4 linked regions of the Homo sapiens genome follow. The protein of the gene in region 1 purifies or fractionates together with the protein of each later gene. This does not show direct contact. Each region holds a gene or a part of one and is shown in the gene's direction. Other genes may lie near its edges. The genes, in order: BRSK1, ANKRD52, ANKRD28 and PPP6R3.

The links.
Region 2: the proteins of BRSK1 (region 1) and ANKRD52 purify together in Homo sapiens (affinity purification with mass spectrometry; one large-scale study listed by BioGRID and IntAct). This does not show direct contact.
Region 3: the proteins of BRSK1 (region 1) and ANKRD28 purify together in Homo sapiens (affinity purification with mass spectrometry; one large-scale study listed by BioGRID and IntAct). This does not show direct contact.
Region 4: the proteins of BRSK1 (region 1) and PPP6R3 purify together in Homo sapiens (affinity purification with mass spectrometry, with the first as the bait; one large-scale study listed by BioGRID). This does not show direct contact.

The regions. Positions count from the first base shown.
Region 1 is NC_000019.10:55,286,940-55,290,506, forward strand, and holds part of BRSK1 (serine/threonine-protein kinase BRSK1), read left to right. Parts: intron 1-67; coding exon 68-162; intron 163-274; coding exon 275-360; intron 361-2,540; coding exon 2,541-2,681; intron 2,682-3,567. UniProt on the Homo sapiens protein: Serine/threonine-protein kinase that plays a key role in polarization of neurons and centrosome duplication. Phosphorylates CDC25B, CDC25C, MAPT/TAU, RIMS1, TUBG1, TUBG2 and WEE1.
Region 2 is NC_000012.12:56,241,360-56,244,926, reverse strand, and holds part of ANKRD52 (serine/threonine-protein phosphatase 6 regulatory ankyrin repeat subunit C), read left to right. Parts: coding exon 1-21; intron 22-129; coding exon 130-275; intron 276-491; coding exon 492-574; intron 575-793; coding exon 794-876; intron 877-1,050; coding exon 1,051-1,142; intron 1,143-1,534; coding exon 1,535-1,785; 3' UTR 1,786-3,567. UniProt on the Homo sapiens protein: Putative regulatory subunit of protein phosphatase 6 (PP6) that may be involved in the recognition of phosphoprotein substrates.
Region 3 is NC_000003.12:15,686,414-15,689,980, reverse strand, and holds part of ANKRD28 (serine/threonine-protein phosphatase 6 regulatory ankyrin repeat subunit A), read left to right. Parts: intron 1-92; exon of another isoform or gene 93-1,634; coding exon of another isoform or gene 1,635-1,670; intron 1,671-3,567. UniProt on the Homo sapiens protein: Regulatory subunit of protein phosphatase 6 (PP6) that may be involved in the recognition of phosphoprotein substrates. Involved in the PP6-mediated dephosphorylation of NFKBIE opposing its degradation in response to TNF-alpha.
Region 4 is NC_000011.10:68,467,248-68,470,814, forward strand, and holds part of PPP6R3 (serine/threonine-protein phosphatase 6 regulatory subunit 3), read left to right. Parts: intron 1-3,567.

The DNA.
Region 1 (3,567 bases):
GGGACATAGGCGCTGGGGACGAAGGGGACCCGGCGGAACACCCCACATTTTCACCCTGCTCCTGCAGGGCTGGTTAAACTCGGGGTCCACTGCATCACGGGTCAGAAGGTCGCCATCAAGATCGTGAACCGGGAGAAGCTGTCGGAGTCGGTGCTGATGAAGGTGTGTGCGCCTGCTGCAGTGTGCCTGCGGGTGGGGGGGCCTCCGGGGCTGAGGGCAGGGGCGGGGCCGTGCTGACCTCTTTTCCCGTGTCCCCACCCCTCTTGACCCTCAGGTGGAGCGGGAGATCGCCATCCTGAAGCTCATCGAACACCCACATGTCCTCAAGCTCCACGACGTCTACGAGAACAAGAAATATTTGTAGGTATTTATAGACACCCAGCCCTACCCCATCCTCCCTCTCCAGGTTACCAGGGTGGGACTTCTCCAGAAACAGGGCCTAGGGGGACCTGGGGGACCTGCAGCTCTCCAGGCTGGACCGCTGAAGGCCCAGTTCCTTGCCTGTTGCACAGGGAAGCCCCTGACACACAGGGAACCCCACTGTTGTCACGCTGTGTTGGGCCTGAGGCCAAGGGCAACCATCCTCCTACCGTGTCCCCAGCTCCAGCTCCTCGCCCTGTGGCACTGCATGGAATGCGCTCTGCTAGACAAGCAGGGTGCCCTCGACCAGACCCAATCTGCTATGGGCAGATGCCTCCTGTTTGTAAGGCAAGGGGCCTAGCAAAGCCCAAAGGATCTTCCCAAACCCCAACTCTGGAGCACTGGAGAGCCCCCCTCCTCCCCCGGCATAACTTCGGGTGCCGTGGCTGGACACCCCAACAATGGGCCGCCTTAGGAGGTCTGAGTCACTATCTCAAAGTCAATCACCCGCCAGGAAGGATGGGGGTGGGGGTCCAGCTGTCCAGACTCCAGAGAATGGGCCTCTTTGTCCAAACTCTGGTGACCCAAAGGACAGCTGGGCTGGGAAGCCGGAGAGGGGACAGCCCTCGTGTTCCCCCCCGGCACCCAGTCCCCCGGATGAACTGACATCAGGTCCGTCGATGCTGGCGCAGGTTTCACCACACGGGAAGCTGTCTGCCCGGCGCTCATGGGACCTGCTCTCAGGCTTTCCCAGGTGTGGTGGTAGGGAGGGGCTATTGTCCGGACCGGTGCATGGTCGCTCCCACTCCACTCTTGGCGTAGGGAGGCAGGGCCATGGGAGTTTATGCTTCGGGCAGGAATCCCAGCCATCTAAGAGCTCATAGAAATTGAGCTTTTGGGGCCAGGCGCGGTGGCTCATGCCTGTAATCTCAACACTTTGGGAGGCCAAGATGGGCGGATTTCTTGAAGAGCTCGAGACCAGCCTGAGCAACATGGCAAAACCCCGTCTCTACAAAAAATACAAAAATTAGCTGAGTGTGGTGGTACACCTGTAGTCCTACCTACTTGGGAGGCTGAGGTGGGAGAATTGCTTGAACCTGGGAGGCAGAGGCTGCAGTGAGCCAAGATCGTGCCACTGCATTCCAGCGTGGGCGACAGAGCAAGACTCTGTCTCAAAAAAAAAAAAAAAAAAACTCCAAACAACAACAACAACAAAAAAAAATGGTTGATGGAAACTGGAACCCCGTGTCCCAGAGGCTTATGGGAAGGGAGTTTGGGGGTTTTTTTGTTGTTTTGTTTTTTTGAGACAGAGTTTTGCTCTTGTTGCCCAGGCTGGAGTGCAATGGCTCGATCTCGGCTCACCACAACCTCCACCTCCTGGGTTCAAGTGATTCTCCTGCGTCAGCCTCCCGAGTGGCTGGGATTACAGGCACGCACCACCACGCCCAGCTAATTTTGTATTTTTAGTAGAGACGGGGTTTCACCATGTTGGTCAGGCTGGTCTTGAACTCCTGATCTCAAGTGATCCACCCACTTCGGCCTCCCAAAGTGCTGGGATTACAGGCATAAGCCACCGTGTCTGGCCAGAAGTGGGGGTTTTTAACTTCTAGGCGCTGATGGGAGTTGTCGTCTATTGCCTCACAGAAGCTGGCTTGGACTGGTGCAACCTTGCAATCGTTAATACTCGAAAATGAATTCAAATTTGAGTTTCCTCACTCCAGAGGGAATTAGAGGCTTGGCTTTCTAGGGGCTAATAGGAGTAGGGGTATCTTCACTTCCCAGGGTCCTATAAGAATTGGGGTCTTTGACCTTCAGGTGCTAATAGAGTCGCCTTATCTCCTGAAACCATTATGAGTCAAAGTGTTGGTTCCCCTCTGAAGCTGACATGGGAGGCTCTACTGCCCAGGGCTAATGGGACTTGAGTTTGGTTTCCTAGAGGCTGGTGGAAACTGGAGTCACTTCCTCCCAGGGAGTGATGGGAACTGGAATCTCTTCCTCCCAGGAATTAATGGAAACTGGAGTCTCTTCCTCCCAGGGACCCATGGGAATTGGAGTCTCTTTCTCCCAAGGATCATGGGAATTGGAGTTCTCTGCCACCAGGAGCCAGTGGAAGTGGGAGACCAGGCCCTTTGGTCCTCCACATGCCCCTTCCAGCCCTCTGCCCCCTCTATATCCTTTAGGTACCTGGTTCTGGAGCACGTCTCGGGGGGTGAGCTATTCGACTACCTGGTAAAGAAGGGGAGACTGACGCCCAAGGAGGCCCGAAAGTTCTTCCGCCAGATTGTGTCTGCGCTGGACTTCTGCCACAGCTACTCCATCTGGTGAGTGGGCAGCTTGAGGGGGAGGAGGGGCTGAGGGCTGCCCAGCAGACAGGCCCTTGGGGGCATGTGGAGGGCTGAGCAAAAGCCATGTGGTCGGCCCCCAAACCTTTATCCCATTGAGACATAACTCATACACCAGAAAATTCCTCCTTTTAGAGTGTGTAATTCAGTGGTTTTTGATATATTTGCAGTGGTATACATCTGCCACTGTGGAATTTTAGAACATTTTCTCACCCTGTACCCATTAAGTAAGCAGTCACTCCCCATTCCCCTCCTGCCCCCAGCCCCCGGCAACCTATGTTCTGTCTGTATGGATTTACCTATTCTAGACGTTTTATATAAATGGAATCATACGATACATGGCCCTTTTTGTATTGTTTTGTTTTGTTTTTGAGATGGAGTTTTGCTCTTGTTGCCCAGCAGGAGTGCAATGGTGTGATCTTGGCTCACTACAACCTCTGCCTCCCAGGTTCAATTGATTCTCCTGCCTCAGCCTCCGGAGTAGCTGGGATTACAGGTGCACACCACTACACCTGGCTAATTTTGTATTTTTTTAGTAAAGTCGGGGTTTCACCATGTTGGCCAGGCTGGTCTCGAACTCTTGACCTCAGGTGATCTGCCCGCCTAGGCCTCCTAAAGTGCTAGGATTACAGGCGTGAGCCACCACTCCCGGCCTCTTTGCCCATCTTTAATTCAGTTATTTTTTAAAATTTGATTTAGTCTTTTTATTATTGATTTGTAACAATTTTTTATTCTAGGAACAAGAGATTACTCTAGGAACAAAATTATTCCTAAAAATTATTCTGTATGATGACAGCAAGAACAAGGGGGAAAATTTAACAAAGAAAAAAAGAATTGTTTATTCTAGATGCAAGTCTTTCATCAG
Region 2 (3,567 bases), on another chromosome or scaffold:
CAGCCGAGATGCCAAAGGACGGTGAGTGATGGAAGACTTGGGAAGAATCCCAGTTGCCTCTGGCTTCCCCTTTCTGCTTGGGCAGTATACTCTTCCCTATTTTAATCTACCCTGATCCCTGCCTTACAGGACCCCCCTTCACGCCGCTGCCTTCGCGGACAATGTCTCTGGGCTCCGGATGCTGCTGCAGCATCAAGCTGAGGTGAACGCCACTGACCACACTGGCCGCACTGCGCTCATGACGGCGGCTGAGAACGGGCAGACCGCTGCTGTGGGTGTGTAGGGGCCACTTGTGGAAGGGAGGAGCTCCCCTGGGGCATTTGCAGGATGGGTCAGCCCTGCCTGTGGAGGCTGGCTGGGGCTGGGGTTCAGAAAGCAAGAGGGTTGTCTTTGGATGTCTCGCCATCTGCAGACGGGATGCAAAGTGGAGAGCCAGGATGGCTACTGCTCTGGAGGGAGGGGTCAGTCCCTCTATCACATTTCTCTCGTAGAATTTCTGCTGTATCGAGGGAAGGCAGACCTTACTGTGTTGGATGAGAACAAGAACACGGCCCTCCACTTGGCTTGTAGCAAGGTACTTACCTGAAGTGATTGGGGGACTGCATAAGGGGCAGAGCTTGATGAAGAGAGGTAAGTCTCGGTTGCAGAGGGGACTGGGGCAGAAGTGAGGATTGTCCAGCCTATCCGACTGGTTGGGCAGCTGTTTGTCCTCCTGTTACTCTCCCCAACTCCTGCCCTGCACCCTGCCACATTTCTACTTCACAAGTCTCCACTCTCTGTTCCCCTCCCTCAGGGCCATGAGAAATGTGCCCTCATGATCCTGGCAGAAACCCAAGACCTTGGCCTTATCAATGCTACCAACAGTGCGCTGCAGATGTGAGTGCCTGGGGAAGGGGGCTCCTGGCTGGGGGAGGCCAGTGGGTGATGAAAGAGTGGCCGCTGTTCAGAGGCTCTCTGGAGCCCATTGTATTTGTTCAGCACCCTTGCCACCCTGTCTGGAGGTGGAAGGGCAGCTTAGCATCAAGCTCCTTCTTTTTCCTTTTTTCCAAGGCCACTCCACATTGCTGCCCGGAATGGTCTAGCTTCTGTGGTACAGGCCCTGCTGAGTCATGGGGCCACAGTGCTGGCTGTGGATGAAGAAGGTGGGTGGGGTCTGGGGCCCCATGCCTCTCTTGGGTTTGGGGTCAGGGACATTCTTCAGGAGGTGACTTCTTAATCTTGCTATACATGGGATTTTCTTCCCAAGGGAACTCTTCAGAGCAGGGAGCCCACACCAGTACTCTGGAGTCTCAGAGGGGAGCCTGCAGGGTCAGGAGGACTCCACACCCTAGGCTTTGACTCCCATGCCCGCCCTTTAACCCGTACTTAGAGAATCTGCCTGTCAGCCTTCCTGGGCCCTCGTCACCCTTGGATTCTGCCGCTGCTGGGTACCTGCCTGCCTTGGCTCCCTCCACAGAGAAGAGACTTCAGGGCTTGGGGGAGGCTGGCTAGGATACAGGACTCTATGCCTCAGTTCTCCCCCTTGGCCCTGCAGGTCACACCCCAGCACTGGCCTGTGCCCCCAACAAAGATGTGGCAGACTGCCTGGCCTTGATCCTTTCCACCATGAAGCCTTTCCCACCCAAGGACGCCGTCAGTCCTTTCAGCTTCAGCCTGCTCAAGAACTGCAGCATTGCAGCCGCCAAGACGGTGGGTGGCTGCGGCGCCCTGCCCCATGGGGCCTCCTGCCCCTACAGCCAGGAGCGGCCCGGCGCCATTGGGTTAGATGGCTGCTACTCTGAGTAGCCCCCTCCAGTGTCCCTCCCCCGCCGGTGGCTTGATATCTAATTCTATTTATTTAGAAAAAGTCTAAACATTTAGGGCACTTTAAAGGAGAACACGACTGGGTGGAGGGGGCGGAGGGGAAGGAAGCCCTGGGGAGCAGCTGCTCACCCCTTTGCCACACCATCTTGGCCTGGCAGGGGTCTGGGACTGACAGGGAGCACCCCAGGCCCTTGGTACCCCCAGGGCGACCCCTTCTGCCAAGTGTCCCAAAATGATTGCTAAATGCCTGGCTCCCCCACTCTTTGACTCCATCTCTTGGTTCCCTCTTTCTGCTGCCAGCTCCCCCGACTCTTCCCTGGGGACTCCTCTCTGTGTCCCCCTTCTCCCCTGCCCCTACTGCCAGGCAGATCCCCTCTTCTTCCATACCCATCACTGCCTCCCTGCTCGGCCGGTCCCTCCATCCCCGCAGCAGTGAGAAGCCTTAATTTCTGGTACTGTGTGAGCACTCTGGGGGTGTCCCCCTCCCCCCTTCAGGGGCAGCTAGAGGATGAGGGGGGAGGATATTTAGCACTGGGGCCTGGAGCTTTTTCCCCACTTCTGTACCCTATCACCCCTAAAGTTCAAATGCAAAACACTTGAAGCAGCAACTACTGTACCTGGGCCCCAATCCTGCACTCTCCCCTGGCTCCTCATATGCAAATCAAGGGCTGGTTCTGCCCCCACAGCCTGCCCCCTCCCCATTCCCTCCCACTCCTAGCCTGGCCCCTAACCACGCACTTTAACCTTGCTTCTTTCTTTTATCTTCTTTTGGGAGGGCAGAGCCTGTGGTCATTCCTGCCCTGGCTCTCCTTCCCTTGAACTTTGAGGCTTGTCATGAATTTTTAAGTAAGCGTTTTATCCTTTAGGGGAAGAAACAAATTAATTTCCTGCCCATTTCAAAACCACAGCCCTAGTATGTCCACTGTGTTTCAGGCATGTGTTTGCATGTATATGGAGGGAGGGACCATGTTCTTCCTCCTGTGCCGCCAAGCCCATAGTTTATCTGTGCTCCCTATCTGCCTCCACCTTCCGTTATGTCCAAGAGTACCCACTGCCCCAGTCACTCCTGATCTGAAGCCAAAGATGGTAGGAGGGGCAGGGCCGACAAGGGACCGTGGCTACTCGGGACCCAGGCTTCCCCTCCAGTGTGAGGAAGAAGCTCTGACCTAGAGAGAGATGAATAGGTACTGGGGCTTGGTCCCTGCCTTCCCAGCAGGGAGGAAAGATGGGATTGAGCTGGGGGCTGCACTGATAAGATTTCTAAAGTCGCACCCCAAAAGCCAAACTGGGCTGGAGTGAAGAGGGGGCAGTTTTCTCTCTAAATGTAGCATTGAATTTGGCCCTGGTCCCTTTAAGTGCTCTGTCCACCCATCTCCTAGTGCAGCCTCCTGGACAGTTGGACCCACTCCTGCAGCCCAGTGTTCCCTTCCTCACACTCAATACCTCAGCCAGGGGCCAAGACACAGAACTTGAATAGAGGTCATGCCCCCTCCGCCCCCACACTGCATCCTTGCCCAGTTTGGCTGCCATCAGTATTGTCCCCTGAGAACTGGACAGGCTTCGTTTACACAGTACAGGGTCTCCCCTGAGGGGGGATCCTTCAGCCTCCCTCCCCTACTCAAGTTTGCTTTATTCACAGTCTTACCCATCTTTTAGTTGTATACCCTGAATGTCTTGCCACCCTTGTCAAGGGTGGGCTGAGGGGAGGGGGGCGTCCCAGGGACCCCCTCCCTCCCCAACGGATACCTTTAACCATACCTCATG
Region 3 (3,567 bases), on another chromosome or scaffold:
ATCCAATACTTTTTTTCAATTTCTGATATATAATATTTCCAGTTAATTGTCTTTAAAATTTTGACCTTTTTTTTTTTCAAATCATATATGGATTATTTGACCTCACCAAATAACTTTATTCACACAAATGAATTTACAAAGCCTCCGTCATTCATAAACATTAGGAGTATCCCAGTGTTCAGGGAACTTAAATACAGTGTATTATATCAACCCAAGTAAACCAAGCACAAAAAATATTCATATAAAGTTGTTTACATGTAGGTCCTAGACTACCAGCTTCTGTGTGAAAAAGGAAATAAAAATAGATTTATTAACTAGTGTTTGAAACTAACTTTGTGCCTGGCTTAAAACCTCCCTCATGCTCCAGCCTGTCCCACACAAGTGTTTAAGAAGTCATTAAAACTGTCCTGCTCTCATGAAAAGAAGCTCCTCTGCACAAAAGATGTAAGTGCCCCCAAGTAGCTCCCTTCCTCCTGTGGCCTCTCTTGGAAAACAACCTTGGCAGCCTCCTTGCTGATACCTTCTGCAATTTTAGGGGCCCCTCAGGGGGCAGTGGCAGTGGATTCATCTTTTGATGATGGCTGCAGATGCTAACATTGGCCAATTCTATGTCACACCTACTGGTTACTCTTTGAAGGCATTTCTCCAGACAGAAGCCCCACTACCGTCAAAGCTTAGGTAGGGCAGGATCAGAGAGGCGCCTGTGTTGTTTTGAAGGTTGTGCTACAGCCTGGACTTATCTCTGGACTTCTCCCTCTAAAACCCAGTGGCCCAAAGAGCTGAAAAATGTCAGCTTGGCTCTTCAAAAGTTTCCAGACCCAAGGAGATTACCAAGAGCTACAACTGTCTGGGGAAATTTTTGACTTTAAGTGGTAAAATGATTGTATTCTCAGGGAATACCAACAACAAGACTATCATCACTTAAAACATTATCTGCCTTAGAAGTTGGGTTTATGTAATAATCTAACTTCTGAAACACTTTATCAACAAAACAATGCAGTATTTATTTCTTTCTGGTAGAAGTTATTTTGGATTGGTATAATCTTTCATTTAACAAGTGATACACGTTTTGACTTATTTTACCAGTGTACTGCATTAAACATTTATGCAGACAGGCTTTACAGAGCACTTTATGCAAGAACTATTCCATATTGTGATATTATGATGTAGCAGATACGTTAAAATACGAAGGTCTATAACCAAGTCAGTTAAATGACTTGCTACCCACTGCGTATCACTGGCAGATGCAGATTCACAACTCTCTATTTTTATAGAGTGATCCTTAAGAATACATTTGAATATATGTCTTGGATTTTTTTTCTAGTCCTTTGGGAAGCTTACATTTTAGAAGACTATTGATAACACCCACTGTTACTCCCAGAGCCGCCCTTCAAAGCTATCAGATGTTCAAGTGGGGCTGAGAAAAATATTTTAATAATACATTAGAACCTCTAATAAACATATATACACTACTATATGGTTTGAACAAGAGGTTAAAATGCATTACTTGCTGTTACCTTATTCTGAAAAAGAGTGAAGTTATATATCACTTTGCAAAGCCAAACTTGGTGGCGCATGCCTGTATTCCCACCTAACTTGGGAGGCTGAGGCAAGAGGGTCACTTGAGTTCAGTTTCATTGCACTCTAGGCAACATGATGAAACCCTGTTCCTAAAATATAAAATAAAAATCAATTTTGTACACTGGATGGGATCTGTGAAAAATAAGTACATTTTAAAAATATTAATCTATAGCTAGAAAAATTATAATTGCAGATCATATGCAGAACTAATTTAAAGCTTGCATGGAGTGGTTGCACTCTCAATAGGTAAATATTGAACTGAGACATTAGCCAGTCCCTTAGAAGTAGTTAACCAATGCCATATAGTTCAGCATAAATCCTACCCACAAAAAGAACCACAGGTTACTCTTAGTGCCTATCTATTCAATAAATGCAAGCCTTGTATCTATAGATGCCTTTCAAATTTGGAGGTCTATAGAGAGCATCTATAAGCCATGAAAAGAACACTGAGGGTTTTTTTTCCTGGAGGTTTACCAGTCATTTCCCACAGAGATGCTGTGCTTGCTGTTTGGGTATTGAACTTAGATGACACAAACATTCATCAGTAGCGACTGTGAACTGAGTGTAAATGAACTGATTTGAAAAATGATGGGCCAAACAAGTTCTTCTTGAACATCCCCAAGTGTTACGACCCTGTTTTTTGTTGCTAAGCTGTGAGAGCTGCTGGCAGAGTGCAGCATACAGATTGGACTAGGGTAGGAGAGGTGATTTAAGCCACAAGTTTAATAACTATTAGTATTTAATATAACTGTGGGAACATACTGTGGAATATTCAGCACCTAGCTTGCTTTTGCTAGTTTTGTCATCTTTTAATTAGAAGAAATAGTGATAGACGTTCTTTTCTGTATCATATGCAAGATACATTTTTTTCTAATGTATTTCTTTAAACTTCAGACTTTGTATATATTAACAGGACCTGAATTTTGCAGAGGATTTAACTTACTTCAAAAGCTCTTTTCTTTGGACTACTTCTACTTGTACCCTTGCCCATTTTATGCATTTGGACTTAACACATGCATTCTTTAGATGGATCATTTTTCTTGTACTGTATGTATATATATATATATCATTTGAAATTATTTCAGCCATAAATAACAGAGTACCCTACTGAAAATAGCTTAAGGGGTTTAGTGTCTCATATACAATGTCGAAAGGCAGGCTGGGCACGGTGGCTCATGCCTGTAATCCCAGCACTTTGGGAGGCCGAGGTGGGTGGATCATGAGGTCAGGAGTTCAAGACCAGCCATGCCTAGATGGTGAAACCTCATCTCTCCTAAAAATACAAAAAAAATCGCCGGGTGTGGTGGCAGGCGCCTGTAATCCCAGCTACTTGGGAGGCTGAGGCAGAGAATTGCTTGAACCCAGGAGGCGGAAGTTGCAGTGAGCCAAGATCACACCACTACACTCCAGCCTGGGCGACAGAGCGAGATTCTGTCTCAAAAAAAAAAAAAAAGCAATATCAGGCAGATGCAGTTCCAGGGTTGGTTGATTCTACAACGGTGTCAGAGCTCTGGATTAAATTCTGTTATTCTCTTACATTTGCATTCATGTTGTGGGATTATTGCTGCTGCTTTTAAGGATTGCATCTAAAATCAGGAAGGAATGGGGGCTTTTCATTATTAAAGATAAAAGTATTTCCCAGCAGCCTCTAGACTTATCGGCATCTCAGTAGTCAGACCTGGTTCCTGTGCTGCTCACCTTAAAACTGATCACTGTCAGAGGAGAATGGGGTTCTTGTGATTGACTTGGTCTAATCATGGTATCATCCCTTTGCTGGAGTCAAGGCACTCTTCCTGACCACATTGCCAGAGAGCTAAATAAAATGAGCATTCTTTTAGAGGCAGATGATAGGGCATGGGTGCTGGGTAGGCGGTCTGCCTGTCATGTTTTACTGTGAGGAATTCACATTTATTCCAGCTTTAACAGTCAAAGGCCGTAGAAACCTTCTTTTTACCTATAGTTTTCATTCTTGCATATTAAATTCAG
Region 4 (3,567 bases), on another chromosome or scaffold:
TACTTCACAGTAACTCTGGGGAAAACCACGGGATTATTAGTTCCAGAATTTCTTACAGTGGAAATACATAGTGACTTGAAGTGATTTGAATTCCCCAGAGATTGACTACCGTGAAATCTGATGGCCCAAGAAAAGATGAATGAAAGATTGTTTTTAGGAACATTAGAGAGCAGGACTAAAACGGCTGCAGACTGATGTTGAGTCAGACAGACTTGGAGAAAGCTGTGTGGGACTGTTAGTTGGAGCCTTGGGTTTCCTATACCTACATGTAAATCTGAACAAAAATTCTGGTGGCAGAGACACACTTTGAGAAAAAAGAGCTTGCCTGAGAACACATGTCACACTGAGACCCTAATCAGGGCAGTTCACACTGCCTGCTCCATGGTTGGCTGGTCAGATTGGTTGGGCTTTGGTCCTCAGATGGGCGTAGCGGGAGGAACACTGACTAGTCTTGACAATTGACTGAGGCTTCCATTCGTGAGAATCATGGTTTTGGGCTGCAACAACACTTAGACGTCATTTATTTTCTATTTATTTATTTTTTTGAGATGGACTCTCAGTCTGTCGCCCAGGCTGGAGTGTAGTGGCGCGATCTCGGCTCACTGCAACCTCCGCCTTACAGGTTGAAGCGATTCTCCTGCCTCAGCCTCCCGAGTAGCTGGGACTACAGGCGTGTGCCATCACACCCAGCTAATTTTTTATTTTTAGTAGAGATGGAGTTTCACCATGTTGGCCAGGCTGGTCTCAAACTCCTGACCTCTAGTGATCCGCCCGTCTTGGCCTCCCAAAGTGTTGAAATTACAGGCATGAGCCACCACGCCCAGCGCATTTATTCTTACAGAAAAATGGAGGCCATGCAGAAGAATGGAACCAGAAGGAGCAGAGAAATCTCAGCCCCGGTGATTCCATAGGATTGTGATGTTCCAGACCACAGTTTTAAGTGCTATTTGTTTCAAGAGTGACATCACAGCTGGATTTTACTTAGAATTCAGAATAAGTGGTTAACGTCTGGAATTTTATTTTTGGTAGTAGTATGTGTCAGTTTTTTGTCACTGTATAGTAGTTGAGGAGTTCTTTTTTGTTGACATAGAGATACACAGGGTTTGTATTGCCTTTGGACAATGGACAGGTCTCATCTGTCTCTTTTGTCTGCAAGTGAGACCCTGCCCCTTCTGAGTAAACAACACTCTGTGAATGACTGTCCCTTTTCACTGTGGACTTCTTGTTATTACACCCTTAGATGGACTCAGCAGCTATGAGATCCTCCCATCATAGGTATGGTATTTTGTAACAAAAGTACAGAAACACCTCCAAGGTGCAGTGAATGATCTCAAGGAGAGAAATGGAGTATTATAGGATCATAGAGAGGCCTCGAGGTCTAACCAGCTGCTCTGCGGAAGTCAGGGTGATGGTGGTTTCAGTGTTGGGGAGGTTACAGAGTTAGTGTTGATATGCAAATTTTCTTCCTCCAAATTTGGAGTATGTTATATATGTTTTAATGTATATAACTGTGAATATGAATATAACATTAGAACATATATAACATAATTTCTGCTGGTGGAGTAGAGATCATAAATTTGAGGTTTGCAGTTTGCTTTCTAAAACATCTTTTAAGTTTATTCTTTTCTGGCACACAGGACGTTGTAGGGTAACTTTGCTGTGGAGTCTCACATTTTATATAGAATCATTTTTTCAACATAGTGTGGATAATCACATACGCCTTGAAGGATCAATATATGTTAACAGATGATTGGATCTTTTTGATTTTGCACTTAATTTCTTTACAAATTCTGCATTATAACCAGACAGCTCTATTGAGGGTTTGCAGATTTTTTCTGTAAAGGACCAGTTAGTAAATATTTTAGGCATTGGAGGCTAAATGGTCTCTGCAAGGACTCATCTCTGCTTTTGTAGTGTGAAAGCAGCCATAGCCAATCTGTAAACAAATGAAGGTGGCTGTCTTCCAATAGGACTTTACTTATAAAAGCAGACAGAGAGTTGGATTTGGCCTGTGGGTTGTAGTTTGTCAATGCCTGCTCTAATCTGTTTTGTCTTTGTTTATCTTTTTGAGATAGAGTCCCAGGCTAGAGTGCAGTGGTGTAATCTGGAGTGCAGTGGTGTAATCCCAGGCTAGAGTGCAGTGGTTTTTGTTTATTTTTTTGAGATAGAGTCCCAGGCTGGAGTGCAGTATAGCTCACTGCAGCCTTGACTGACCTCCCTGGCTGAAACGATTCTCTCACCTCAGCCTCCCGAGTAGCTGGGACTGTAGGCACATGCTACTACACCCAGGTAATTTTTTTTTTTTTTTTCTTGTAGAGACAAGATCTTCCGATGTTGCCCAGGCTGGTCTTGAACTCCTGGGCTCAAGCAGTCCTCCCACCTTGTTTTCCCAAAGTGCTGAGATAACAGGTGTGAACTACCATGCCTGGCCTCTAATCTGTTTTTTTATTTTAACTTGTAATTGGACTATGAATTCAAAGAGTATATATCAGCATGTGCCCAGATATTAAACATTAGAACTGACACTTGTGTACCCACTAACCAGCTTAGGAAATAGAAGGTTGCCATACCTTTGGCTCCCTGTGTCCTCGTCTCACCACTTCCCTCTTTCTGACCTCCCCAAGGCAAATACCTTGTATGTATCATTTTTCTGCTTTACTTTATGGTGTTGCAAAGTATAAATGTATCCTTATATAATGTGACTTCATTTTTGCATTCCTTTAGACAATGTAAATGGAGTCACTTTGTTCTTTTTTTGCCCCCACTCAACATTGTTTCTGTGATCCTTTTATTCAGATGTTTGAGTACTTACCATGTCTTAAACACTGTTCTACTGCTGGGCATGTTAACAGTAAGCAAAGCAGATGAAAAGTCCTTGTTTTCATGGAGCTTACATTTTGGTAGGGGAAAGACAGTTAACAGATAAATGAAAGATACAGTAGCCATATGGTAATACAAACAGGGAGAAAAGTAAACCAGGAGAGGTGGGGTGTGGGGGAGTGCTTGTCTGCAGATTGAAATACAGCAGTCAACAGAAGGAGTGGAGGGACCCAGCCACAAGGCTGTGGGTGGCAGTGGGGTAGGGGCAGCATTATAGGCGGAGGGTCAGCAGGACAAGGTGCTAAGAAGGAGGCATGTCTGCTGTGTTGGAGGGGCAGCGGAGGCCAGTGTGGCTGGAGTGAGGAGCCTGAGGGAGAGTGGGAGGAGGGTAGGCCAGATGGATGGGGGAGATGGGGGGAGGGCGTAGGTCACACTGGCCATTGTTAAGATTTTGTCTTTTTCTCTGAGTGAGATGGGTAAGTCATTTGGTGTTTTGAGCAGAGGTGTCACATGATGTGGTTTCTAAAGGTCCCACTGTCCTGTGCTGCTGGAGGGAGGTTGGACGCTCTGGCAGTGATCCAGGAGAGCAGTAATGGCAGCTGGGACTGAAGGGGAGCAGGGGTGGGAGTGAGAAGAGGTTGGCTGCTGGATCCTTCTTGAAAAGGAAGAGCAGACAGGATTTGCTGGCAGATTGGAGTGGGTGTGAGAGAGGAGTAAAGGATGATACCAGGGATTTTTGTAGCTGGT